Homo sapiens: one gene and its partners. The protein of the gene in region 3 binds, or shares a complex with, the protein of the main gene of each other region. Each region holds a gene or a part of one and is shown on either strand. Other genes may lie near its edges. The genes, in order: TAF1A, POLR1B, UBTF and TAF1C.

Region 1 (7,028 bases), on a different chromosome or scaffold from region 3:
ATCAAATGAAACACTTTTATGCTTCAAAGGACACCATCAAGATAGTGAAAAGAAGGCCAGGCACAGTGGCTCACATCTGTAATTCCAACACTTTGGGAGGCTGAGGTGGGCAGATCACTTGAGGTCAGGAGTTCGAGACCAGCCTGGCCAACATGGTGAAACCCCATTTCTACTAAAAACACAAAAATTAGCTGGGCGTGGTGGCAGGCACCTCTAATCCCACCTACTCGGGAGGCTGAGGCAGGAGAATCACTTGAACCTGGGAGCCAGAGGTTGCAGTGAGCTGAGATTGCGCCACTTGCACTCCTGCCTCGGTGACAGAGTGAGACTCCGTCTCAAAAAATAATAATAGTAAAATAAAATAAAAAGATAGTGAAAACACACAGAAAAGGTGAAAATATTTCCAAGTCATGAATCTGATATATCTGATAAGAGAATTCTGTCTAGAACAACTAAGTACTCTTACAAAACTCAATAATCTAAAAGCAGGTAATTAAAATATGAGCAAAAGATCTGAATGAAAATTTCTCCAAAAATGATATACAAATGGCCCATAAGCACATGAAAAGATGCTCAACATCATTAACACCCAGGAAAATGCAAATCAAAACTACAAGATGCCATTTCACACCCACCAGGATGACTATAATAGAAAAGACAGATAATGGCAAGTGTTGGTGAGGATGTGGAGAAATTTGTACCCTCATACACCGCTACTGGGGATGTAAAATAGTGCAATTGCTTTGGAAAACAGTCCAGTGGTTCTTAAAAAGGATAAACTTAGAGTTATATGACCCAGCAATTTCTCTCTTAGGTATATACCCAAGAGAAATAAAAACACATGTCCATACAAAAACTTGTACATAAATGTTCACAGCAATGTTATTCAAAATAGGCAAAAGTAGAAACAATCTAATTGTTCATCAACTGATGAATGGATACCTAAGATATAGTATATACAAACAATGGAATTCTATTCAGTAATAGAAATGAAGTACCATTACATGCTATAACATTAAAAACATTATGCTTTCTTTGTCAAAATTTTCTGTTAGGGAAAAAAAAAATTATGCTAAGTAAAAGAAGACCACATACTGTATGATTCCATTTGTATGAAATGTCCAGAACAGGCAAATCTCTAGAGGCAGAAAGCAGATTAGTGGTTGCCTAGGACTGGAGGGGTGGGGAGAAATGGGAGAGCACAGGGTTTCTTTTTAGGGTCATGAAAATATTCTAATATTGTACTGATGGTTACAACTCTATGAATATACTAAAAACCACTGAGTTGTATATTTTAAGTGGGTGAATTTGTATGGTATGTGAATTATATCTTAATTCTCAATAAAGCTATAAAGAAAAAAAACCATGAGAGATCACTACACCCAACAAATTGGCTGATATGAAAACTCTGACAATAACAAATGTTGAGGAGAATACAAACAAAAGAAAACTCTAATCAGATTGTCGGTAAAGTACAAATTGGTAACCTCTTTGGAAAGAGTTTAGTATATTATGTACCAAAGTTAAAGACGCACAAAACATATTCTATGACAATTCTACTCCTAGAAATGCATACTTATGTGCACCGGTATACAGAAATTAATAGGGGTTCATTTCAAAGCAGAATTATTTATAATAGCCCAAAATAGTAACCTAAATGGCCATCAGTAATAGAAGGAATAGTGTGACTATCATAAAATATTTTATAACCATAAAAAATGAATAAATTAGAGCTACATCCAATAACATGTATTATCTTAAAACTGATTTTGAACAAAATATGCAAGGCCTAAAAGAATATATACAGTACAACTCCAAATACAGCATTCAGATATAGGCAAAACTAAATCACATTGTTTACAAATGTATACATGAGTGGAAAGAGTATAAAGAAAAACCAGTGAGTGATTAACATAAGTCAGGACAGGGATTTTCTTGAGAGAGAATGGGAGGAAATGCAGTCAGGAAGGCACACAGGGAGAATTTTAGGTTAGGGTGACAGTATTTTGTGTTTCTTAATCTGGGTGGTGGTTATGTGAATGTCCATTTTAAATTTATTCATTATATCTCACATTTGTTTTATATGCTTTTTCTGTATCTATTTCTCAATCTTAAAGGTTTACAAAGAAAGTTACTCAAGTCTTTCAAAAATAGCTATTAGAAGCACAAGATACTGCAAACCAAACAGAGGCACTGGTATCTTTTTCCCAGTGGATCAGTTAAATACATATCAATATGAACTTAGAAATGAGGTGATAGGAAAGTAGGTAAGACATTATATGGAAAAAAATTTTTTTTAAAAAAAGGGCTGGGCATGGTGGTTCACGCCTGTAATCCTAGCAGTTTGGAAGGCTGAGGCAGGAGGATTGCTTGAGCCCAGGGGTTCAAGACCAGCCTAAGCAACACAGTAAGACCCCATCTTCACAAAAAAAAAAATTGATGGTGCACACCTGTAGTCCCAAGTCCTTGGGAGGCTGAGGTGGGAGGATCACTTGAGCCCAGGAGGTCGAGGCTGCAATGAGCCGTGATCACACCACTGCACTCCAGCCTGACAGCAAGAGACTCCAGACTGAGACAGCAAGACTCTGCCTCAAAGAGAAAGAGACAGATCCCTGAGTATAAATTGGGTTTGAATTTATTATAGAAGGAGGTTCCTAGTCACCAAGTGCATCAATCCCAACCAAGACAGAGCCACATAACAGCAAGAAAGTCCCAAGCTGACTCCAAGTACAAGTTCACATGGTAAGTGCCCATGAGTTTGGTTATAAAGAACTAGTCCTAACTTTTTTTCTCGTTAAATAGACACTTGAGGTGAATGATCATCTAAGAGCTCTACATATTATCCCATCATCATCTATTGTTGCTACAGAACTGTCAGCTACGGAAAGGTACTGAACCATCTATCCACAAGAGTAACATTACAAATGCGATGTTCCAACAGCTTTAATCATCAGATATTTGCTTGAGTTTTACCTAACCATGTATAAGAAGAAAAGTAAATACTGACTTTAAAACTAACCTAATCAATGAGTAAGTTTTGAAAAAGAACTATTACACCAGAAAATATGACAAGACTAACAAAAGAAATAGAGGAATATTACATCAAACATTGATTAGTCTAAACGGGAAGATATCTGGACTAATAAAATACACATGAAAAAACTTAGCACAATTAGAAAGCAAGAGATGAATAGCCAAATGATTCAGGCTGAACATGCAGCTGATATATTAAGTTTAAGGTGTAAGAATGAGGGTTTGGGACAGCGATCCAATGAGTCTTGAAGAATAGAGAGCATTCTAGAAGAGGAGACTCTACAAAGGCCTCACAAGATTATCATGATGAAGAGAGCATTTCAGAGTATCTTGAAAGAAGAGGGAAGGGAATCGAAATTAGTGAAACTACATGCCCAGAGACCAAGGAAATACCACTTATCACATAAGGATAATAAGGAAATACTGCTTACCACATAAGAAGTGATAAATAGTAGGACTAAGATATGGAGGAGGATGAAAACAGAAAGGGGTTAATCATAGAGATTAGGTTAATCTCGAGGATTATCCCCTACGGAGAAACTATACAAGGCAAGCGAATTGCAAAGAATCATACAGTTCCAGTGAATGCAAATCTGGGCATAAATGAAGATGATAACACCATTGAAGGTTAAGAGAAGGGGAATCAGTTTGAGAACTGAATGGTCAACTTCTGGTATAGTCAATAAATCAAGAAAATTGTCCATTATAACCTTTACACAAAAATGAAATGACCATCTTGACCTATTCTTTAAACATATTATTCTGAGAAATAACATTACAAAGTAAATTAAACTCCATTCTAGGCACACAGGAAGAAATGTTTATTATATGTAATAATGACTGCTGAAGAAAATCTGTAGCCTTTCTTAGAAATTGGCAAAGACTTTCTTCTTGACCAAACTCCAGCCAGGCTCCTCTGAGCTCTCTTCTGGACTAGGCCTCAAACTTGGCCAATAAATACTTGAACATAGTTTCTAGAACACTAACATAGTTTCTAACAGCTCAAGGCCACATCCCCAGGATGACCCCAGCCCCTCTTGAAATGTTTGCCTGGGAAAACTCCAGAAGAATTTACTGGTGGTTCTGCCTTCTGCTTTTTAAGCTCCCCACCCCCACCCTTTACAACCCCAAGTCACCTCCATAGAAATTGGAATGGAGTTTAGCTCTTCCTCCTGTCAGTAGTTACTGAATCAAACCTGTCTCCACTGCTGTGTCTGGCTGTGTTTATCCTGGACTAAATCACATTCAAAACAGCAATGAACCTAAAATGATCATGAACTTAATTATGAACCATCTAATTTATGATTGAAGCTTTTTATATATCAGAAATATTATAAAGGATCAAGAATTTTAAATCCATAAAAAGTCTGTTCTCCATAATATCTGGATGAAGTCAATAGGGAAATTACTAGATTACTCCTTAAGATCCCTCTGCCCCTCAGTCTCATCATAAGAAAAAGTTTACCTGTATTCACTTACCAAGCTTTGACAATTCCATCTTCTTTTCAGACCAGGTATAATACTGTAAAAGCCCTTTATAGGCCTGAATAAGGTTGATTAATATTTCCCGGGAAGACGTATTTTCACCATGTCTCCATGTCTCTGCCTCACTCAGATTTCTCTTAGCATCTTTAAGCATTCCATGATGCAGAAGGTATAATGCATGTTGTAAGGAGATCTGCAAAAATAATAAGGGTACACCGCCATTTAAGCCATTAGATAACCATTAGTCAAAAAGCTCAGTAAATATATAATACATGCTGGGCAAAGACCTTGGTAGGATACAAATAACTTGACATGGAAAATTTTGATGTTGGGTACAATCTGGCAAAGAAGTAAGACATAGGAAACAATTAACACTATGTAAATATGAGCTAAATTATGTAAACTTACAAACAAAAGACAGTGTGATATAGTGGGGAAAAAAGAGGTTTTGAAGATGAGTGTCTTGGTTCATACACCACTTAAAAACTAAATAAACCTGGGTAAATTATTCACTCTTTGTGAGTCTCATTTGTTTTACGGAACATTACTGCCCCTTCAGAAGGGTGTTTTCAAGATTAAATGAGATAATACTTGCAAATCACCTAATAGTTTGGCTCATAGCAGACATTCAACAAATATTACTATTTTATACATGTTATATAAGCTTAGAGAAAATATCTTAATAAGGGATGCTGAAGAATGGCTTCAGTTCAGATGGAGAGGAAAGTGTATCCCTGATACAGGAGAAGCAGGAAGAAAAATTATACAAAGAATGAGTATTACAAAAAGGGAAGACATTAAAGAGGAGAATAATGAGAACTACAATTAATCATATGGGTAGAGCCAAAGTACTGCAATAAGTTGTCAACTGGCCTCTCCATTCCTGCCTCCCTACAATCCATCTTTCAAGTGGCTACCAAAGAAATTTCATCTTGTTAGTCATTTGCATAAACTCCTTCAATGGCTCCCACTGACTACAGAATTAAAATCCAAGTTCCCTGGGTATGGCACACAGGGCCCAGCCTACTTCCCCCAACTTCTACCCAAGTGATTTTTAGAGTAACTAAATTATTGGATGTAGGGCTTTTAAACTCTTTATAACCCCCGCCATGCAGGGCTGCCCTTTCCCCTAATCTGCCTAGTGAATGGCCAATTGCTTTTGCAAACTTATCTCAAGTATCACTTTCATTCTTTTCCTGATTCCCCTACCCATTAAATCCCAACCCTCTCTAGTTCCAGAGAACTGGCCATTTTCTCCTTTATCTTCTCACCATTTGTTACATTTCTACTATGGTACCCATAACACTTCATTCCATTTACATGATCTTCCTCTACTATAAGAACCATGTCTAGCATATTGCCTGGTAAGCGGCAATAAGTGTTTTTAAAATTATTAACAACAAAAAAAATTGTATTATCTATCCTAATTATCACTCTCAGACTCTTATTGAGAAATGAGGTTCCCTTTCAGTTTCTTTACTTCAACTGAGTAGATTCTATGAGCCAAAAGGGACCTAACCAACAGTTTACTCTTCACACTCCCTCCCTAATTAAATGGCTATCCAGTTTAGACCTGAAAAAAGAGACGCAGAGCACACATCAGGGTAGGCCATTCCCATTTCCAATTGTTTAGTTAGAAAGCTTTTTCTTAAGTAGAACCGTAAACTGCCCCCATTTAATTTCCACTCACAGTATACCTGGTCTACCAGAGAACAAAATCGTAAGAGCATCTGGCACACAAATAGACACTCAAAACATTTTTTTAAAGCAAAGCATTTACAAACCTGTATTGAAAAAGTGCTCTTTGAGACAAAAACATAGAGAGGGAGATACAATATTTTGAAAATGTCTCAATCTTTTTGGATAAGACTTTTACAAAAGGATATATGAACTTGGAGGTGAAGATTCCACCTAAACATTAGAAGTATTAAAATATTTTCACGTATTTAAATTCCCAACTTGTTTAGCTCTTTCCTTTTCTAAACACCAACTCTAAGCTCAAGTGACTTCAGCAAACATTTTAGAATCTGGCCCATCATCATACCACTGCAATCTCTGAATAACTGGTTTTGGCAGCCAGAAGAAATATACAAAGAAAAGGAATTTTTAGTCAGAGAACACAGGAGGCGCCTGAAAATCAAGAAGTAAATGGTTCTCATAACGCTCTTTTCTTTCAGTTTCTCTTATTTATCCAGAATGTCTTATCCTTGTCCCACATTTTTTAGGTTAACTACCTTATCACTGACACAAGCAATTAGAAAAAAAAAAGAATACTGCAAGTGTAAATTCACAAAGCCCATATTCTCACCTTTAAATAATTCATGACGCCAATATTTTTCATCCGGTTAGCAAAAGTATTGAAACTCTCCATGTTGCTTTTGGGATGATAAAATAGAATTTCACTTCCGAGCTTCCAAATAATCTGTCAAAGCAGAAATTACTGCCAAAATGTAAAATTTTTGCCTTAACCAATTTCTGTCTAAGATATTGTTTTCCTGATTACAACATTA
Region 2 (7,028 bases), on a different chromosome or scaffold from region 3:
TACTGGTGCTGTCCAGTGCATAGCCACCAGTCACATGATAAGCACTTCAAATGTGGCCAGTGTAGCTCAAAAACTGAATGCTTAATTTTATTTAATTAAAGTTAAGTAAGCATGAGTTGGGGATCTTGGTTAATAGAATATTAAGTAGTATTACCAACTGAATTGTTTTAAGCTTTTTTTTTTTTCTGTTTTCACAGCCAGTGCATCTGTATCCACTTGAAATCCAATACTGAAAAGTTTTATATGCTTTGTCTCATGACGCGAAAGCTCTTTGCTTTAGCCAAAGGAGAGTGCATGGAGGACAATCCTGATAGTTTGGTGAACCAGGAAGTCCTCACACCGGGTCAGCTCTTCCTTATGTTCCTGAAGGTAAATGCATGCTATGTCCACCCTTGGCCAGTGGTACCACTTGTGGAATGGCGTGACTTTGTCCAGCAGCACTGTTTTCTGCATGTTTATAGTTTCTAGTTTTGGCATTTTGTGTGGTCTCTTTTTTGTTTGTTCATTTAGCAGTAAGGGGATCAGAAATCCTGGCTTACACCAGGTTTGGAAATTTGCTTAATATTTTTATGTAAAGATCACATCAAATCTTGGTCACAGTGTTAATGATAAAAAGCAAATGGCCTGTATTTATACATATGGTTGATCCTCATTATTTGTAGATTCTGTATTTGTGAATTCACTCACTGGCTAAAATTTATTTGTAACCCTAATGTCAGTGCTCAGTGCTTTCATGATTATTCACATACATGAGCAGAGCAGTGAAGAATTTGGGTCTCCTGAGGCAAATGTTACAGCTGAGGCGGGGCAGGGCGATGCTCTGCTTTCCGGTTTCAGCTCATACTATAAAGAGGGTCCTTTTTGAGGTGCATTTGGTGCTATGTTTTTCACATTGTCGTGCTTCTTATTGGTGACTTTTTTGTTTTTTTTTGAGACAGGGTCTCAGCCTCAACCTCCCAGGCTCAAGCAATCCTCCCACCTCAGCCTCCTGAGCAGCTGGGACTATAGACATTCACCACCACACCCGGCTAATTTTTAATTTTTTTTGTAGAAACAGGGTCCCACTATGTTGTACAGGCTGGTCTCAAACTCCTGGGCTCATGTGATCCTCCTGTTTCAGCCTCCCAAAGTGATAGGATTGGAGACATGAGCCACTGAGCCTGGCCAGTTTTTGCTGTTTATAATGGTCCCCAAGCATAGCACTGAAGCGCTGTCTAGTGTTCAGTGTTAATGAATTAACAAGGTATGTTAAATAAGGTGCCTTTCAACAAAAGCTGACATTAAACAAGATTGTATATTGATCCGTTGACCAGAATGTTATGACCAGAGACTTGCAGGAACCCAGCCCTGTATTTTTCCCCAGGAGTAGTGGTTTTATATGTGTTAATTCAGTGTTCATTAGAACATAGCTACTGTGAGTAGTGAAATTTGACTGTAGATGTATATAGAGAGAAAGTTGGCATGGCACAAAAATGATTTCATAAGAATATTGATTCAGTGGCATTTTATATTTTGCATCTTATCCTCAAAAAGATGTAATCTAAGAGTTAATATATTTTTAGTAGAGGTGGGGTTTCACCATTTCAGCCAGGCTGGTCTCGAACTCCTGACCTCAGGTGATCCACCTGCCTCAGCCTCCCAAAGTGCTGGGATTACAGGTGTGAGCCACTGTGCCTGGCTTCTAATTTATTTTATTTTATTTTGAGACAGAGTCTTGCTCTGTCTCCCAGGCTGGAGTGCAGTGCTACGATCTCAGCTCACTGCAACCTCCACCTCCCGGGTTCAAACAATTCTCCTGCCTCAGCCTCCCGGGTATCTAGGATTACAGGCGCGTGCCACCATGCCCGGCGAATTTTTTTATTTTTAGTAGAGACGGGATTTCACCATGTTGGCCAGGCTGGTCTCGAACTCCTGACCTCAAGTGAGCCACCCACCTTGGCCTCCCAAAGTGCTAGGATTACAGGCGTGAGCTACCACACCCGGCCTTCTAATTTCTTATCTAGGTAGTAATTCTTATTTACATTCTTCCCGAAAGGTAATAATCTTTGTTTCTGTTTGCTCTGTCCATAAAATTAGATTGAAAAATTTCAGCAGCCTACAATTTTCCTGACAAAAATTGAAAGCAGGCAGCGTAAGTTTTCTCTTATTAATTTAATGTTATTAAATTAACCTTTCAAGTAAAGGTTAATTTACATTTCCCATCTACTTAAAGTGAAGCATGGTGGGCTCATTGTATTCCACACTTATAAATGTGTCTTTATTCCACATCAATTCCTAATTAGGAAAAAAAAGAAAAGAAAAAGAAATGAGACCAGGAGTACAGTGGCTCATGCCTGTAATCCCAGCACTTTGGGAGGCTGAGGCAGAAGGGTAACTTGAGCCCAAGGAGTTTGAGACCAGCCTGGACAGCACAGAGAGATCGCTACAGAAATAATAAAAACTATTAGCAGTGGCTGGGTGTGGTGGCTCACGCCTATAATCCCAGCACTTTGAGATGCCAAGGTGGGTGGATCTTCTGATCTCAGGAGTTCAAGACTAGCCTGGGCAACATTGCAAAACCCTGTCTCTACAAAAAATATAAAAATTAGCTGGGCATGCTGGCATGCTGCAGCAATTCCAGCTACTCAGGAGGCTGAGGTAGGAGAGTTGCATGAGCCTGGGAGACGGAGGTTACAGTGAGTTGAGATCACGCCACTGCACTCCAGCCTGGGCGACAGAGCAAGACCCTGTCTCCAAAAAAAACCTGTTAGCTGGGCATGGTGGTACATGACTGTGGTCCCAGCCACTTGGGAGGCTGAGGTGGGATCCCTGAGCCCAGGAGGTCAAGGCTGCAATAAGGGGTGATTTTGCCACTGCACTCTAGCCTGGGCAAAAGAGCAAGACCTTATCTCAAAAAGAAAAAAGAAAAAAACACCTGGTGCGGTGGCTCACACCTGTAATCCCAGCACTTTGGGAGGCCGGGGTGGGAGGATCACTTGAGCCCAGGAGTTTGAGATCAATCTGGGCAAACAGCCCAGAGACAAAACTTCGTCTCTACAAATAATTTTAAAAAAATTTAGCCAGGCCTGGTGGGCCACACCTGTGGTCCCAGCTACTCAGCAGGCTGAGGTAAGAGGATTGCCTGAGCCCAGGCGGCGGAGGATGCAGTGTGCTGTGATCACGCCAGTGCACTCCAGCCTAAGTGACAGAGCAAGACCCTGTCTCAACAGAAAAAAGAAATGAGTCTTCTGTAGCAAGGCGTTACTAAGGTGACCTGTGTCAGCAACAAGAGAAACCAAGGGAAAATTGGGGCTTTTTCAGAGAATTCATTGCCGAGTATCTGATTTCCTTACCAGCTACGTTAAAGCTTTTAAACCTTTGAGTTTGGAGCATAAAAACAATCTTCAGAAGATACATAACCATGACATAAGATGAATTATAGACTGTTAAAAATTCACATTGTATTTACATTGAAATAAGCAATATAAAATTGAAAAATAGCAACCATATTTTCTGTATTATTGTAGATTAACCATAAAACACTTCAGTTAGCCTTTCTGGTTTTGATTTTAAACCCAAATAAGGAAGTAGACATAGTTATGAAAAAAAAGGGAGAAGAACACAAACAAATCAGTTGTCAAGATCCAGGGCTTCTTATTCCATCTTGACTGTGAAGATGAAGTGTTCAGTGTACACCTGATAAAAACATTTATGACACAGGAAGATGTAGGCTCAAGAAAGGAATCTAAACAGCAACCAGCAGAGGTGGAGCAGTGATGCCAGGCTCTTCTACTCAAACTTGATTCTCTAGTTTCACTTGATAAAGTCCAAACCTACATTAATACCCTTGTTGGGTGAGCTAACAGCTTCCTTCACTCCCTGGTAATTCCCTTATCTGTACATTACAGATTTTTAGCAGTGTACTTACAAATCCTACTAGTGTGTAGTCAGTTGTGAGATTCATTGTAACATTTTATAAAATATATTCCTTCTTCCCACACCTCTCCAAAATTTATTCCTTCCAAGTACTAAAAATTTAATATTACTGCACCACAGTGATATTAAATGCAGTGTCAGTGCCAGAGAATATGCAGAAATGAAATGTGTCACTTCCAGTGCTGTCTTCTGGAAGAATAGTTAGGTCTTCCAAGTGTGAGTGTTCAAACACTGATAGTTTGAAGAGGTGGATTATCAATAGTCAATGGCTAATGTGTTGACTCAGGGGCCTGCTGGAAAAGGTATACATGAGTGACCTATGTACATCTTCCACGTTTTCTTCCAAATATCAAATATAGGAGAGAACCTATCTCAAACATTCTCTTAGGTATTTTCAGTGGTTTCTGAACCACCCATAGAAAGCGCTGATGGTGTATAGTCTTTTTTTCTTTTATTTTTAGTTGACATGTAATAACTGTACATATTTATCGGGTATACAGTGATTTTTCCATATATGTCAATAATGTATAATGATCAAATCAGAGTAATTAACACATTCATCACCTCAAACATGTATCATTTTTTTGTGTTGTGAACATTCGAAATCCCCTCTTCTAGCTTTTTGAAAATATACAATAAGGCTGGGTGTGGTGGCTCACGCCTGTAATCCCAGCACTTTGGAAGCTGAGGCAAGAGGATTGCTTGAGCCCAGGAGTTTGAGACCAGCCTAGGCAACAAAGTGAGACCCCCATCTCTACAAAAAAAATTTAAAAATTAGCCAGGCATGGTGGCACATACCTATGGTCCCACCTACTTAGGAGGTTAAGGCAGGAGAATCCCTTGAACCCAGGAGGTTGAGGCTGCAGTGAAAAAATATACAACAAATATAGTTAACTGTATTCAACCTACATTGCTGCAGAATACCAGAACTCATTCCTCCAGTCTAGCTGTAATTTTGGAATTGCAGGCTGCTTTAGGCTTTTCACTTAGTGTTGGCAGCATAGATTAAGATGGACTGTGTAGTTCGTGTGATTGGTTTTAGATGTATAACAAGTATAATGGGTGAAGGAGGGCATCACATTGAAGAGCTATCCTTTCTGCACCTGAAAAGCCCTCTTTCAGGTTTTTGGTTTTGATGTATGTTAGTAGACGTTTGTTAAAGATCGTACAGATTACATGGGAATAAATATGAAGTTTGTGATAATTGAAACACATACTATTTTATTTTATTGAGAATAGGGTCTTGCCCTGTTTCCCAGGCTGGAGTGCAGTGGCACAGTCATGGCTCACTGAAGCCTTAGGCTCCTGGACTCAAGCGATCCTTCCGCCTCAGCCTCCCAAGTAGCTGGAACTACAGGCACGCCCCACCCCCTCACCCCACCCCCTCTGGCTAATTTTTTTGTAGACAGGGTTTTGTTTCACCATTTTGCCCAGTCTCATGTTGAACTCTTGGTCTCAAGCGATCCACCCAATCCTGGGATTATAGATGTGAGCCACCACACCTGGCTCACATACTATTTTATATTAATTTTTTTTCCTTATTTCAGGAAAAACTGGAAGGTTGGTTAGTGTCTATTAAAATAGCTTTTGATAAGAAGGCTCAGAAGACCAGTGTTTCCATGAACACTGACAATTTGATGAGGATTTTTACAATGGGCATAGACCTTACAAAACCATTTGAATACCTTTTTGCTACTGGGAATCTGCGTTCTAAAACAGGTAAAATTAAATCGATCGTTTTAGTTATGTTTTTCAAATTAGTTGCTTAGTGTAGATTTGCCTGTCCCTGAGAGTTCTTTTTAAAAGCAAACCCCACGAAAAAAGTAAATTTCTCATAACTATGACTTCGACAACTATTGGTCTAAAGGGCTTTAGACAAGGTGTCTGTATAGCTAAAATTTAATTCAGATAACTGAATACATTTTCTCTGCTTCCTTCTAGAAAATGAAAGGCCACTTAGACCTCTGAGGAAGGCTTACCTAACAGGAACTCTAGATGGGTTGCTGTACATGCCCATCTCTAAACCATTTGCCTTGCCTCAGAGTGACCTGAGAGGCCAGGTGTGGTGGCTCATGCCTGTAATCCCAACACTTTGGGAGACCAAGGTAGGAGGGTCACTTGATCCTAGGAGGTCAAGGCTGCAGTGAGCTGTGATTGCACCACTGTACTCCAGCCTGGTGACAGAGTGAGACCCTGTCTCAACAAAAAAGAGAATGACCCTAGAAACTTAAAAAGTGGTAATTGGGAATTCAGAATTTTTTTTTTTTCTTTTTTGAGTCAGGGTCTCACTCTGTCACCCAGTCTAAAGTGCAGTGGCAGGATCATGGCTCACTGCAGCCTTGACTTCCCAGGCTCAGGTGATCCTCCGACGTCAGCCCCACGAGTAGCTGTGACTACAGGCATAAGCCACAACACCTGGCTAATTTTTGTATTTTTTGTAGAGATGGGGTTTCGCTATGCTGCTGAGGCTGGTCTGGAACTCTTGAGCTCTGGTGAACCACCCACCTTGGCCTCCCAAAGTGCTGGGATTATAGCATGAACCACTGTGCCCCGCCTTTTTTTTTTTTTTTTAAACCCATGTTACTGTTGCCGATTCTTTCATTAGCCTGCTTTCTTGCTTGTCTATTATCTGACTCTCTCAGATGAATTTAACTACTTGCTATTTTATTAACTCATTTAATGTTCACCCACAAAGGAGGTCATAGAGGAGACAGGGAACTAGTTGGGGCTAATACAGTTTGTGAAATCTGGGGATTATTTTACATATTTTTTTGTGAACTCTTTACACTCATCAGAGCTAGGAGAATAAATGTTGTAATAATTCATTCTATGATCTGTAGAGTGCTCTGAGGTTTTGTCGTCATAAAGCCTCAACAATTTCCATTTTTCAAAAGATTGGCCCATTTTTGAATGACTTTTGTTTTATTAAGGTCTTGGCCTCCTACAAGATTCTGGACTTTGTGTTGTGGCTGACAAGCTGAACTTCATACGCTACCTCTCCCATTTCCGCTGCGTGCACAGAGGGGCTGATTTTGCCAAGATGAGGACCACCACAGTACGCAGGCTGCTGCCAGAGTCCTGGGGCTTCCTTTGTCCCGTGCATACCCCAGACG
Region 3 (5,164 bases):
TGCGCAGGAAAGGGTGTCTTCCCTTAATCTCAGAGAGTGAGTCATCTCAGCCCAGCCCAGCCTGCTTCCCATCAGAGGCCTAGATGGTCCTAGGAAAGTCATCCTTAACCCTTAACCTTTAACCTGGGATGGAGCTGAAGGCTCAAAGTGAGAGCGTGCTCCCTCAACTCCCCACGATAAGCCCTACACTAGGAAGGCTTGCATGCCCAGGGCGAACCCTTGACCCTAGTAGCTCATCACCTCCAATTCCCCAAGACCATGTACTTTGGGTGAAAATGCATTTGTTCTCCAACTTCTCAGAATCTTTAGTGGTCTCACAACCCAAGGTGAACAAATGGAATTGAGAAAAGGGCAAGAACAGTAGCACAGAACAATGTGAAGGTAGGTTGCCTATGGAATCTTTAGGGAAGAGGAAGATAGTTCTAGGAAGAAAAGGCAAATTGGCTTCAAGCATTTTTATAGATCAAACCTGTTGGGTCACCCCTGTGAACCTTCATTGATTCCAGTGACCAGACAGCAGTCAAACCTTTGTTTTTCACTTTATTATACAAAAAAGGGAAAACAAAACTTCCACAGTTGGCTTTAAGCATAGGCAGACACCTCTAAGCCACTCCCTCCCACCTCCCATGATACAAATTCAAGTTGTGGTGGTTGTTGAATCCTACAAAACACTCCTTAAATATTAGAAAAGAAGTTGGGGGTGGGGATGGGGGTCTTCCCACCCCAGCCATCCCATCCCAGTGCCAAAATGCACTCAAGAGTGACCTCTTACAGCACCAACACCCCCACCCTGACAGTCCTGTTTGTACTGTAAGAATTTTTCAATTTTTAAAACAGGAAAGAAAAAGTGCCCCATTCAAAGTTGTTTTTAAATGAAAATACATTCCACTGAAACACAACAGTGTAGGGGCATCCAAATAGGAAACTGGGGTTCTTTGCAGGGCTCTTGGGAAGAAATAGAACCTATAAACCCCTGTACTTAATTCCAGGATTAGGACAAAGGAAGGGGAATGGGAGTGGGGAGTGTCCCCCCCAGGCCTCCCCACCCCCAGCACCAAGGTCCAAGGCAAAGCAGAGACTGTCTGCCTTCCTTTGGGAGAGGGACCCACCAGCCTCTCTGGGACCAGGGCCCTTCACCGTTCTTGCTCCACCTCCGCGGCAGAGTTCCCGCTCTTCCCCCATTCCTTGGCTTTCATTCAGAGGGGGAAGGTGGAAAAGCACCAAGCCCCAATTTAATAGGTCAGTGACATGACCATAAAAAAGAACCCCCCAAATTTAGTCAACAAAAAAATAAGAACTACAGAGATAAGGTGGCTTGGCTTATTAAGAGTCAAGGAATCAAGGTACCAAAAAATACGGGAGATGGCTGGGAAGAGTTAGAGACAGCTGCAGATGCAGCTTTTGCAGACTTCTTGCCCAGCTGTGGGGTTGGGGGAGGAGGGAGCAGACCTGAGAAATTAAAGGAAATAGGGGGTGGTGGGAGGATTCAAGGAAGGCTGGAGGGATGTGTAAGTTAGGAGCTCCCAGCACATTTCTTGAAGCCCAGGTTCTGAGCCTGGGGTGGCCAGGCTTGGCCTCTCAGATGAACAGGGGAGACCTTTTCCATCAAATACAAGCTTTAAGCTTCACACCATCTTGCCTGCCTTTCCGCCTTCCTGCTGGACAATGGAGACCAGCAGCTCGGATGCATGTGACTCTGGCAGAGGGAGCCTGGTCTGGGAAGCATCCGAGAATGGCTTCAGCACACTCCCCCTAATGGAATCAGAGACTGGGCAAAACAGAGGATGTGGAGAACGGGGCAGCCTCAGCCTGCTCCCACCAGGGTCAACATCTCCCGGCCCTCACCGACCCTTTTTCCAGATTCACAACAAACTGATGTGGGCTCTAGGACAGACCCCTTTACACACACACACACACACTCACACTCTTTTGCACACATCCACAGCTGCACCCATGCTATGTACAGGAACACACATACACATACTCTCTTCCACATACATCAAGACCATTTTTAAAAGGTTCCAAATCTACCCCTAAACCCTCCCTCTCCCAGAAATGACAACAGAGACGGCAGCCGAGATCGGTAGGAAACGTCTCGTTGACAGCTCAGAGCTTAAAAAAAAATATATACACATATATAAAAAACACTTCTGCCCCCTCCCCCATGAACGGGTCCAGGCAGCTCCTTCCTGCAGGGGGCAGGGGAGAGGGCCACCAGGGCAGTGCCTGTTTTCTTGAAGGCACCGACCCTCCTCCTCCCCATGTTCCCTGCCTCCAGTTCCAATGCAGGGGTCCAGGTGGCAGGCCCCTCTGGGAAGGAATGGGTCTTCCCCAAGCTTCCACCCCACCTTGGATTGGGCCGCAGGTGTGGAGGGCCTCATCAAACTCTTTGGGACCCCCCACCCCCACTCTCCGGTCCATTGTCCATGCCGGAACCGCAAGTGCAGAAGTGGGTGGGGTGGGCCAGGCTGGTCCGGTGCTGGCTTAGTCTGATAGTTGCTGTCCCTGGAGGAGGACCCCCAAGGGCTGATGTCTCTGAGGCTGCAGAGTCCTGGCCTGGGCTCCTCCAGCCCCCTACCCCCACCGTATTTTTTTTTTTTTTTAAAGAAAGAAAGAAAGTGGGGGAGGCCAGGGGGGCAAGGGACAGAACATGGGGGAGAAACAAAGGTGGTCAGTTGGGGAGGGGAGCTCCTGGGCTCTCCCTGGCTGCCCTGGGGTGGGGCTGAGCCTCAGTTGGAGTCAGAGTCTGAGGAGTCCCCTGAGGAGGAGGAGCTGGAGCTGCTGCCCTCGGACTCATTATCTTCATCCTCATCGTCATCCTCGTCGTCGTCTTCGTCCTCGTCATCCTCTTCATTCTGGGGGGTGAGAAAGGATGTGGAGTCACCAGGTGGCCCTCCTGGCAGGACTCCCCTCCCCTCCCACTGTGCCCTGTCTGCCCCACCTCATCCCCATCCTCGCTCTCGTCCTCGCTGCTGGACTCAGAGGAGTCGCCGCCATCTTCAGAGGAGTCCCCATTCTCATCATCTTCCTCTTCTTCATCCTCGTCCTCGTCATCCTCATCCTCTTCATCATCCTCCTCGGACTCCTTGGAGGGATGGAGGCACATCAGTGGTCTCTGGTCTCTGCCCAACCATTCCAGGCAGTGCCCCCCGCCCCACGCCCCTGCATCTGGGAGGGGCTCCTTACCGACTTGGACTGCAGAGTAGTCCGGCTGGATTTGGGGTTTGGGCCTCGCAGCTTGGTCATGCTCTTACGTTTCTGCAGGATGGGGACACAAAGGTGGCAGCCATGAGTTCGACACCCCTGAATTCCCCCACCCCTACCCCACTGCTGCTCTGCTCCCAGACTCACATTGGAGATGTACTCTTTATATGCTGCACGGTCCTGGGGAGACAGGCTCTGGGGGAGACAGAAGCGGCAAGGGTTGGAACATAGCCAACTACTGCTGACTGAGCATGCTGGCCCAGTGCTAGGCAGTGGGCTGAGCATTTATATATCATCACCCCATCTTACCCCTCCCAGGCTCCCTAGATTTTGGGTCTCTGCAGAGAGCCCCTGGGATCTGAGAACACAGCTCTAATTTTTTTTTTTTTTTTTTTTTTTTTTTTGAAACAGGGTCTTGCTCTGTCACCCAGGCTGGAGTGCAGTGGCACAATCTCAGCTCACTGCAGCCTTGACCTTCCCAGGCTCAAGTGATCCTTCCAACTCAGCCTCCAGAGTAGCTGGGACTACAGGCATGTGCCACCACACCATGCTACCTTATAATTTTTTGTAGAGACAGCAATCTCACTATGTTGCCCAGGATGGTCTTGAACTCCTGGCCTCAAGTGATCCTTCATACCTTGGGCTCCCAAAGTGCTAGGATTACAGGCGTGAGCCACTGCGCTGGCCCAAACCCTAGTATTTCTGCTTCTGATACCCAGAGTCCTTCTCTAAACCACTAAGACTATTGGTTTTCACATTTTCCCTGTTGCTTTTCGCAAATGGAAGCTCCTATCAGAGTCTTCCTCACTCCAAAGAAGTGCCCCCGTGATGAGTCAGCCTGGCATCATCAACCACACCCCAACACCAAACCCTTGAGCCATCGATGAGGCAGTGGGGCTCACCAAACTCCTGAAACAGCAAATCCCCACAGTCTTCCTGGGTCCTTGGCCAACCTGCCTTGGTGAGTGGGAAGGACACAGGTGATTCTCTCCACTTTACAGATCTGACTACTCAACCAAAGCACAGAGGGGAAGCACAAAGGCCAGGAGTCTAGGAGAGGTCCCGTGGTCCCAGATGGGGGAGGAAAAGGCAGTCTGATTTGGATTCTTCTACTTACTGTGTGACCTTGGGCAAGTTACTTAACCTCTCTGAGCCTTGGTTTCCTTATTTTTAAAAGGGTGATAGTGGCTGCGGACGGTGGCTCAAGCCTGTAGTCCCAGTGCTTTGGGAGGCCGAGGTGGGCGGATCACATGAGGTCAGGAGTTCGAGACCAGCCTGCCCATCTCTACTAAAAATACAAAAATTAGCCAGGTGTGGTGGTACATGTCTGTAGCCCCAGCTACTCTGGAGGCTGTGGAAGGAGAATCGCTTGAACCTGGGAGGTGGAGGTTGCAGTGAGCCGAGACTACACCACTGTACTCCAGCCTGGGCAGGAGAGCAAGACTGTCTCAAAAAATAAAAAAAAAAATAAAAATAAAAGGGTGATAGTGACCGTTATCCTGAAGGATTGCGAGGGCATGGAATGAAATCATGAATGAGACCAGCCAGCACAAGTGGGTGGATGGGCCAGGCTAGGATGGTGCTGGCTTAGTCTGATGCCTCTCTGTTCCTTCCAAGGGTCCCTTGCCCTCTCACCTTAACCCAGAGGTCCAGGTGCACCTTGTACTGCTTTTGCTGCTCCTCGGCCAGCTTTTTGTAGTGCTCCTTCTGGCTCTGGGAGATGCGCTGCCAGCGACTGCCGATCTCCACCATGCGCTCCTTCAGCGGCAGGTGGTTCAGCTCCCCATTGGACAGCAGCTCCTGGGAGAACTTCTGGTAACCGTTCCTGGGAGGTGGGTTGGTAGAAGGAGGGTCAGGACCCCAACAAAGCAGCCATCCAGCCCTGACCCTCCCCGACCTCCAGGGCAGACTCCAACCCCCAGGCTCACATGGGAGGCTTCTTGGGTTCTCCCTGGAATTT
Region 4 (7,938 bases), on a different chromosome or scaffold from region 3:
CGGCAACTTAAATTGCATGTAAGTGGCTCTAAAAACGTATACAGAAATACCAGGGGGCCTTAACCTCCCTGGAAGTCAGGTGGGAAGAATGTTCACCTGCCATGACTCTTTCACAGTTGAGCATCTGGTGTGGCTGGTGATCCTTGGAGATCGCTGCTCACAGCAGGGTCCACCCCAAGGTCCCAAGCTCAGGCCAGGTCCTGCTCCGGCGGTGTCTCTGAGCATAGGGACCAAGGTCCACCTTCCCCAGACCCCCTGCTCCCCACGTCCTGGGACCCAGCCCTCCGTGGCTCTGCCCTCTGGCACAGCCATGCCCCGGCCCGGCCTCACCTGGTGGCTGGTCCTCCCGGAAGAGCAGGAAGATGCCCAGGCTGGCCGCGTACTCCGTGAGCAAGGACACGGCCTGGCTGGCAGGTGGGTCTTTGAGCGGCAGGCTGAGCCCTGCTGGGGGCACAGGGACCCTCGGGGCCTTCCCCATCTGTTCCCCCAAGTTTTCCCACGCCCGGGCTGCCCCCAGTTCCCCGACTCCGGCCCCTGCCCCAGGCCCACTGTCCCTCAACACCGAGACCTGGGGCCACCCGCCCTCCGCGCGATACGTCGCGGGCGCGGGCGCGGGCCCCCAGGCACTTTGGGCCTGGGCGGGTAGCGGTCGCCAGGGGCGGGGCTGGGGGCTGATCTGCAACGATGCAGCCAGGCGGGGCTTCCTACGACTGCCGTCGTCGTCAGCGCCCTGAGAAGCCGAAGCCATGGCCGCCAACGAAGATCTGAGGCGCTAGGCCCTATCTCGCGCTGCTCTCGCCCTTTCACACGCGCAGGGCGGGTGCCTTCACGTGGGGAGCACGCGGACGAAGCGTGGTGAGCTCCACCCCTGCCATACGATGGCCAATGAGAGCCCTGAGATCTGTGATGGACAGTGCACCCTGCCAATGGGAAGGCCAGTCTCCCAACGACGGCGGCTTGGATGCTTATGGCTGAGGCCAAGGTCCCACTGCCTGGACGGAAGTTCCGGCTGAGACCAACGTCCCATGGCCTGGAGGGAAGTTCCGGTGGGTGGGTGAGGGGTTGCTCTAGCAGCTGCTTCTTTAACCGTGGGTGGTCGCGGAGCCTGCAAGGCGGGGGAGGAGCATCTGGGGGCGTCAGGTCCAGTTTCACACTCTAGCTCCTGCCCTAGGCCCCTAGGCACCTCCACATCACAGGCTGCTCAGCTGCTTCACTGGCTGAGCCTGGAGACTTCAACACAGGAATTAGGGGTTCACACTGTCAGCAGGATCATTGGATATAAAATTTCACTGCAGGCCTTTCTGAAGCCAAACATAAGTGTTCCCCAGCCAAGAATTAGCCATTTGATGCAAAATGTAGGTGGGCGTGGTGGCGCACACCTGTAGTCCCAGCTACTCAGGAGGCTGAGGCAGGAGAATCGCTTGAACCTGGGAGGAAGAGGCTGCAGTGAACTGAGATTGCGCCACTGCACTCCAGCCTGGGCAACAGAGCGAGACTCTGCCTCAAAAAATAAATAAATAATTTTTTTTAAGAAAATAGCCATTTGATACTCTGCCTTTTTCCCCCCTAAGAAGGGATTTTGAGTTAATTCATACAAATAAGACAAGATAACAATTGTTTAAAGTGAAGAGCTAGAGATCAAGAGACATAGGAAAAATAAGATAAAGACAGGGATGAAGACAATTTACACAAGGCTTACTGTGATGCAACGCGTATTTGCTTGAAGGAGGCTGCAAGTTTAACGGAGTCTTACAGTAGCCACTAACTTGGGAAAGCATGACCAGTGTCTGTAAGATTTGTCACAGTGCTTGCTGCTGCTGCTGCTGAAGCTGGGCCTGGCAGCTCTCTCCAGGATTGTGACAGTGAGGATGCTGGGGCATATGAGGACCAGGTGGTGGAGTCCTCCCAGAACCTTTGACTTGGAAGAAGCAGGTGTGGTGGGCTGGGTAGTCAGCCTCCCCAACATGTCAAGAATTGACATCAGGAAGAACAATTCCATTTTGTGTGTGTGTGCAGCCCAGAGAGTGGGATGAGGCCCAGGAGAGTGAAGGGACAGCACAGCAGATGTCCAGAAATGGACTGAGGGCTGCACATATCCACAGAGAGACTTCCACAAAGTCATCAAACCCAGTAACGCCCCAAACGCTCACCAACAGGAGGTTGCGTGAACAAATCAATGGTATATTCATACAATGGAACACGACTCACTAATTTAAAAAGGAAACAACAGCTGCGTACACAACACAGGTGAATCTATTAGGCACATGGCGTGGAAGAAGCCAGACACATCCTCTCCATGATTCCACTTATGTAAAGTTCTTGAACTGGCAAAACTAATCTGTGGTGATAAGAGTCCAAATAGTGGTTCCTTCTTGAAGGAAGTATTGACTGGGAAGTGGCACCAGGGAATTTTCTTTTTAGAAAAAAATTTTGTAGAGATGGGGGTTTTGCTCTGTTGACCAGTCTGGTCTTGAACTCCTGGACTCAAGCAACCCTCCCACCTCGGCCTCCCAAAGTGCTGGAATTATAGGCATGAGCCACTGTGCCTGGCTGGAACTTTCTTGAGTGATAGAAATGTTCTCTGTCTTGATCTGGGTGGTGTTCATGTGGGTTTCTATGTATGAATAAAAATTCAATGAGCTGTACATTTAAGACTCGTGTGCTTTACTGCATGTTGAGTATATGTCAGTTACAAAAGCAAATTGATAATGGCTTATTCAGAGAAAGGAGGAAAGGAAGAAATGGAACTGGCCTCGCAGTGCCAAAGCTGGATAGGCGTTTTACAAGGGTAATGTAGAATATTAGTGTGGTAGGCAAAATAATGGTTCCCCCAAAGATGTCTACAGCCTAATCCCCAGAACCTATGAGTATATTATTTGGCAAGGGGGCATTAAGGTTGCAGGTGGAAGTAAGGTTGCTAATCAGCTGCCTTTAAAATAGGGCTCTCACCTGTAACCCCAGCACTTTGGGAGGCCCAGGTGGGAAGGTAGCTTGAGCCCAGGAGTTAGAGACCAACTTGGGCAACATGATGAAATCCCATCTCTACAAAAACTACAAAAATTAGGCCGGGCGTGGTGGCTCATGCCTGTAATCCCAGCACTTTGGGAGGCCAAGGCGGGTGGATCACATGGTCAGGAGTTCAAGACCAGCCTGGCCAATATGGTGAAACCCCGTCCCTACTACAAATACAAAAATTAGCTGGGTGTGGTGGCAGGCACCTGTAGTCTCAGCTACTCGGGAGGCTGAGGCAGGAAAATCGTTTGAACCTGGAAGGTGGAGGTTGTAGTGAGCCAAGATCACGCCACTGCACTCCAGCCTGGGTGACAGAGTGAAACTCTGTCTCAAAATAAAAAAAAAAAAAGAAAATTAGCCAGGCATGGTGGTGCTTGCATGTAATCCCAGCTACTCGAGAGACTGAGGTGGGAGAATCATCTCAGCCTGGGAAGTTGAGGCTGCAATGAGCCATGATGGTACCACTGCACCCTAGCCTGGGCGACAGAGTGAGACCCTGTCTCAAAAAAATAAATAAAACAAATAAAATAGGGAGATTATCCTGGATTACCTGGGCGGGCCTACTATAATCACATGGGTCCTTACATGGGAAAGAGGGAGACAGAAGAGTAAAAACCAGAGAGATGGCCTCATGAGAAGAATCCGACTGGCATTGCTGGCTTTGAAGATGGAAAGGGGTCATGAGCCAAGGAATGCAGGCAGCTTCCAGAAGCCAGAAAAGACAAGATAGTGGACTCTTCCTTAGAGCCTCTCAAAAGGAACACAGCCCTGCTGGCACTTTTAGTCCAGGTAAAAACTTCCAGATAAAAACAATATAGGCCAGGCGTGGTGGCTCATCCTGTAATCCCAGCAATTTGGGAGGCCTAGGCAGGCGGATCACTTGAGGTCAGGAGTTCAAGACTCAGCCTGACCAACATGGTGAAACCCCGTCTCTACTAAAAATACAAAAATTAGCCGGGCATGGTGGCGCAGGCCTGTAATCCCAGCTACTCGGGAGGCTGAGGCAGAAGAATTGCTTGAACCCAAGAGGCGGAGGTTGCAGTGTGCCAAGATCGTGCCACTGCACTCTAGCCTCCATCTCAAAAAAATAAATAAAGACATAGATGACAGCTGAGAATTTGGAAATTGATTCTTTAAAGCAACGGTTCTCAAAGTATGGCCCCTGGACCAGCATCATCTGGGAACTTGCTAGAAATGCAGACTCTTGGGCCACATCCCAGATCTACTGAATCAGCAACTCGGGGGGCAGAGGTAGGGTGGAGCCTAGCAAACTTGTAACAAGCCCCCCAGGTGGTTCTAAGGCTCACTGAAGTTTGAGAAGTACTATGTTAGGATAACGGTAAGGTTCATGACTGGACAGTGGTTCTTAAAGCATGGCCCCCAGATAAGCAGTTTCAGCATCACCTGGGAACTTAGGCAAATCATCAGGTCCCACCCCAGACTCACCGAATTGGAGACTGTGTTTTAACTAGCCCCCCAGGTGCTACTGCTGACGCACGCTAGCTAGAGTTTGAAGACCACTGCCTAAAGCTCTCCCTGCCTGACCACCCCTGGAAAAGCTTCACTCTTAGTAGGTATTTGTACCCTTATTTGTAAAGCCCGCTTCTTGGGATTTAAGGACAATCAGTAGGATACCTACTGACCAATACAGGTCTGGCTTATAGTAGGTGTTCTGTGGGAGTTCGTTAAATGATTAATTTAATACAACTCTGAGGAAATTGGTGAAGTAGATGTGGGATTCGAACCTAAGTCCACCCGGCCTCCACTATTGGGACTCAAGGGAGCTTTATTTCCGCTGCCCACGCGCCGCCTGCACGCCCGTTCCCTCTCCTCCCGGGAGGGGGCGCGCCAGGACCCTAAGAGGCCTGGCTGGGAGGCGGGACTTCCTGCCTCCGCAGGAGGCACTTCCGGTCCAAACCGGAAGACCGTGGGTAGCTGCGGCGGGGCTGACCCGTCCCGAGTGCCAAAGCTGGGGTTCTACTTGAGATTTCCCTCGTGGTGCCAGGGTCCGGCGAGCATCACGCCGAGGCCCATTTTCCAGACGACCACGACGAGGCCGGGGTCACGTAAGTGCACGCATGCGCCCCCTCCGCGCGGACTGCGCGTGTTCGAGGAGCGGACCCGCAGATGTAGGAGGGGAGGGACGCCCCCAATCCCCAGTCCCCGCGGCAGGCTCACGTTTCGCAGTCCCCGGCCTGTCGTTATTGCGGATCCGACTGAGTTCTGTAGCCTTGGAGGTCTAAAGGGTCCTGGAGAGCCCGCAGCGAGGGCGGGAAGCCGGCCGGGGAAGTCGAGGCTGCCTTGTCTGAGGGCTTTTGTGGGGTCGTGCTCTCCACCAGCGCCCTCCGCCTGTCTAGGATCGTTTCAGGCTATGCGGTTCCAAGAGAAAATATTTTTGTTTCTATTTTATTTTTGAGATAGAACCTTGCTCTGTCACCCAGGCTGGAGTGCTGTGGCATGATCTTGGCTCACTGCAACCTCTGCCTCCCAGATTCAAGCGATTTTCGTGCCCAGCCTCCTCGGTAGTTGCGATTACAGGTGTACACCACCACGCCCGGCTAATTTTTGTATTTTTAGTATTGACAGGGTTTCACTGTATTGGCCGGACTGGTCTCAAACTTCTGGCCTCAGGTGATCCGCCCGCCTTGGCCTCCCAAAGTGCTGGGATTGCAGGCGGGAGCCACCGCACCCGGCCAAAGGGAAAAGATTTTTGTATAGCGAGACTCTAATGCTAGCGTTTGCATTTCGGTGCATGCGAGAGCACTGGTTCGGAGCTCTGCCTCTGAATCGGATGGGAATCAAGTCTTGGCTGTGGCAGCTAAGAGCTGTTGGACTAAAGTTCTTGCTGAGCCTTCGTTTCCTGAACTCTGTTAACAGGGACGGCGATAGAAGAGTGCAGCATTTAGCATGTGCCTGGCAGATAGATGCTGGCGCTTGGTCAGCGAGCGCTGCTGTTATTTTTGCCCCTGTTATTTTTGTTAATTAAAAAGGAGGGATGCTATGGCTGCTCATACTTCTAGAGGACTGTATTTACCAAAGCCTTGTGATGTAATTTTTTTTTTTCTTGAGATGGAGTTTCGCTCTTGTTGCCCAGGCTACAGTGCAATGGCGCGATCTCAGCTCACCGCAACCTCCGCCTCCCGGCTTCAAGGAATTCTCCTGCCTCAGCCTCCCGAGTAGCTGGGATTACAGGCATGCGTCACCACGCCCGGCTAATTTTGTATTTTTAGTAGAGACCGGGTTTCTCCACATTGGTCAGGCCAGTCTCGAACTCCCGACCTCAGGTGATCCGCCTGCCTCGGCCTCCCAAAGTACTAGGATTACCGGCGTGAGCCACCGCGCCCGGCCCCTTGTGATAGAAATTTATTTTTTTCAACCCCTAGTGCATTTTCTGGGAGGCACTGTGCTTGACAGTAGGAAGACGATGCTCAGATGCAGTCCCTGGCTGTGGAGTAACTTGAGCGTCTTGGGGGTGTAGTCTGTAAATGTATGATGACGGTACTTACGAGCCGGGAGAGAGGCTGCCCCTTGCCGTCTTTCTGACTCCATCTCCACCGCTCTCCACCTCGCTCACTCTGGCTGCCTCATTTTCTCACACACTTCACTGCTCTAGGATTTTCACAGTTGTTGACCGTTCGGCCTGGAACCCTCTTCCCAGTTGCGTACATGGTTCTCTCCTTCACTAGGTTCAGGCTGTGCTCAAACGCCACCTTCTCAACGAGGCTTTTCCTGGCTGGCTTTGCTGAAACCACGCCCTCAGCCCACTACCAGATCCCCTTCTCCTGGACGGGTGGTTGGCTTTAATACAGTTCTCACTACTGCTTGGCCTTGGGCTACATATTTGTTTTTTGTTATCTGCTTCCTCAAAGAACATATGCTTCCCGTAGTGCACTTTTCACTCCTCAGGAACTCTGGCGCCCCTTACCAGCTTCCAGTCTCTCGAGGTGGCCAGTGTGGTGCTTGGTCCTTGTTTCCAGGATGGACTTCCCCAGCTCCCTCCGCCCTGCATTGTTTCTGACCGGCCCCCTTGGTCTGAGCGACGTCCCTGACCTCTCTTTCATGTGCAGCTGGCGAGACGCACTGACTCTGCCAGAGGCCCAGCCCCAGAACTCAGAGGTGAGGATGCAGGCAGGGGGCCCTGGCAGCTCCAGGGACATCCCTTCCCTGGGTCCCCCGTCTCACATTCACATCAGTTGACAAGGCCACAGAGTGGTGGCATTCACACGAGTCTGCTGAGACACAGGCTCTGCCACCTCCTCTGGGGTACATGGGCTACCCTGCCATCCCTAGACGGATGCCCCCACTATGCCGGGTCCCTTATGAGACCGTGAGAATGCTGCCTGAATCAGTCGGTTGACCCCTCCCTTCCTGGAACGGAGAGCTGAGTTGAGCGAGAATAAACAAGTGAACTTTATCCAATGGATAAGGTGTTTACAAAATGTGATCAGAGCTTGGAATGAAAGCAGAAGGATGCTGAAACAGCATAGTAGGGTTGGGAGAGGGGAGGATAGACCTGCAGGGTTTCTGCTGCCTCTGGAGGGACACTGGCCCTTTGCTTGGAATCCTCAGCCGCCTAGTTCCCCTTGGAAACACCCTGTCTGGGAATGAAGCCTGGCAGAGGCAAGTGGGTGAGCAAATAAAAAGAGAGACAGTGGAGCAGAGGCTTGGGGAACGGGGGTCAGGGATGGCATCCTTACGAGGGAGGGTCTGGCGTCAAATTGGGGCTCCTCTGGGAGTCTGGTTTCCTAGCTCTTTTGTCCCCTGAATGTCTGGGCCGAAACATCCCAGGCCAGCCCAGCAAAGGGAGGTGGAGCCGCCTGCCGGGCTCCCAGAGTGACTGCAAGGTCTCCTGAATGGAAGTGAGGTTACGTGAGATGTGGACCAGCCACTGGTGGCATGAGGGGCTTCCTTCTTTGAGAGCCAGCA

Evidence for each region.
Region 1: UBTF (region 3) and TAF1A share a complex: the UniProt entries of both Homo sapiens proteins name them as parts of the pol I pre-initiation complex.
Region 2: UBTF (region 3) and POLR1B share a complex: the UniProt entries of both Homo sapiens proteins name them as parts of the pol I pre-initiation complex.
Region 4: UBTF (region 3) and TAF1C share a complex: the UniProt entries of both Homo sapiens proteins name them as parts of the pol I pre-initiation complex.

Annotation. Positions count from the first base shown.
Region 1 is NC_000001.11:222,572,933-222,579,960, forward strand, and holds part of TAF1A (TATA box-binding protein-associated factor RNA polymerase I subunit A), read right to left. Parts: intron 6,959-7,028; exon of another isoform or gene 6,941-6,958; coding exon 6,827-6,940; intron 4,712-6,826; coding exon 4,513-4,711; intron 1-4,512. UniProt on the Homo sapiens protein: Component of the transcription factor SL1/TIF-IB complex, which is involved in the assembly of the PIC (pre-initiation complex) during RNA polymerase I-dependent transcription.
Region 2 is NC_000002.12:112,552,448-112,559,475, forward strand, and holds part of POLR1B (DNA-directed RNA polymerase I subunit RPA2), read left to right. Parts: intron 1-197; coding exon 198-369; intron 370-1,091; exon of another isoform or gene 1,092-1,243; intron 1,244-2,076; exon of another isoform or gene 2,077-2,132; intron 2,133-5,462; coding exon 5,463-5,634; intron 5,635-6,845; coding exon 6,846-7,028. UniProt on the Homo sapiens protein: Catalytic core component of RNA polymerase I (Pol I), a DNA-dependent RNA polymerase which synthesizes ribosomal RNA precursors using the four ribonucleoside triphosphates as substrates.
Region 3 is NC_000017.11:44,204,513-44,209,676, forward strand, and holds the end of UBTF (nucleolar transcription factor 1), read right to left. Parts: coding exon 5,133-5,164; intron 5,030-5,132; coding exon 4,840-5,029; intron 3,400-4,839; coding exon 3,352-3,399; intron 3,328-3,351; exon of another isoform or gene 3,259-3,327; coding exon 3,187-3,258; intron 3,086-3,186; coding exon 2,942-3,085; intron 2,856-2,941; coding exon 2,730-2,855; 3' UTR 528-2,729; downstream 1-527. UniProt on the Homo sapiens protein: Recognizes the ribosomal RNA gene promoter and activates transcription mediated by RNA polymerase I (Pol I) through cooperative interactions with the transcription factor SL1/TIF-IB complex.
Region 4 is NC_000016.10:84,184,041-84,191,978, reverse strand, and holds the start of TAF1C (TATA box-binding protein-associated factor RNA polymerase I subunit C), read left to right. Parts: upstream 1-4,921; 5' UTR 4,922-5,078; intron 5,079-6,395; exon of another isoform or gene 6,396-6,497; coding exon of another isoform or gene 6,498-6,499; intron 6,500-6,918; 5' UTR 6,919-6,989; coding exon of another isoform or gene 6,990-6,990; coding exon 6,991-7,128; intron 7,129-7,938. Other genes in the region: ADAD2 (adenosine deaminase domain-containing protein 2), read right to left, coding at 331-748. UniProt on the Homo sapiens protein: Component of the transcription factor SL1/TIF-IB complex, which is involved in the assembly of the PIC (pre-initiation complex) during RNA polymerase I-dependent transcription.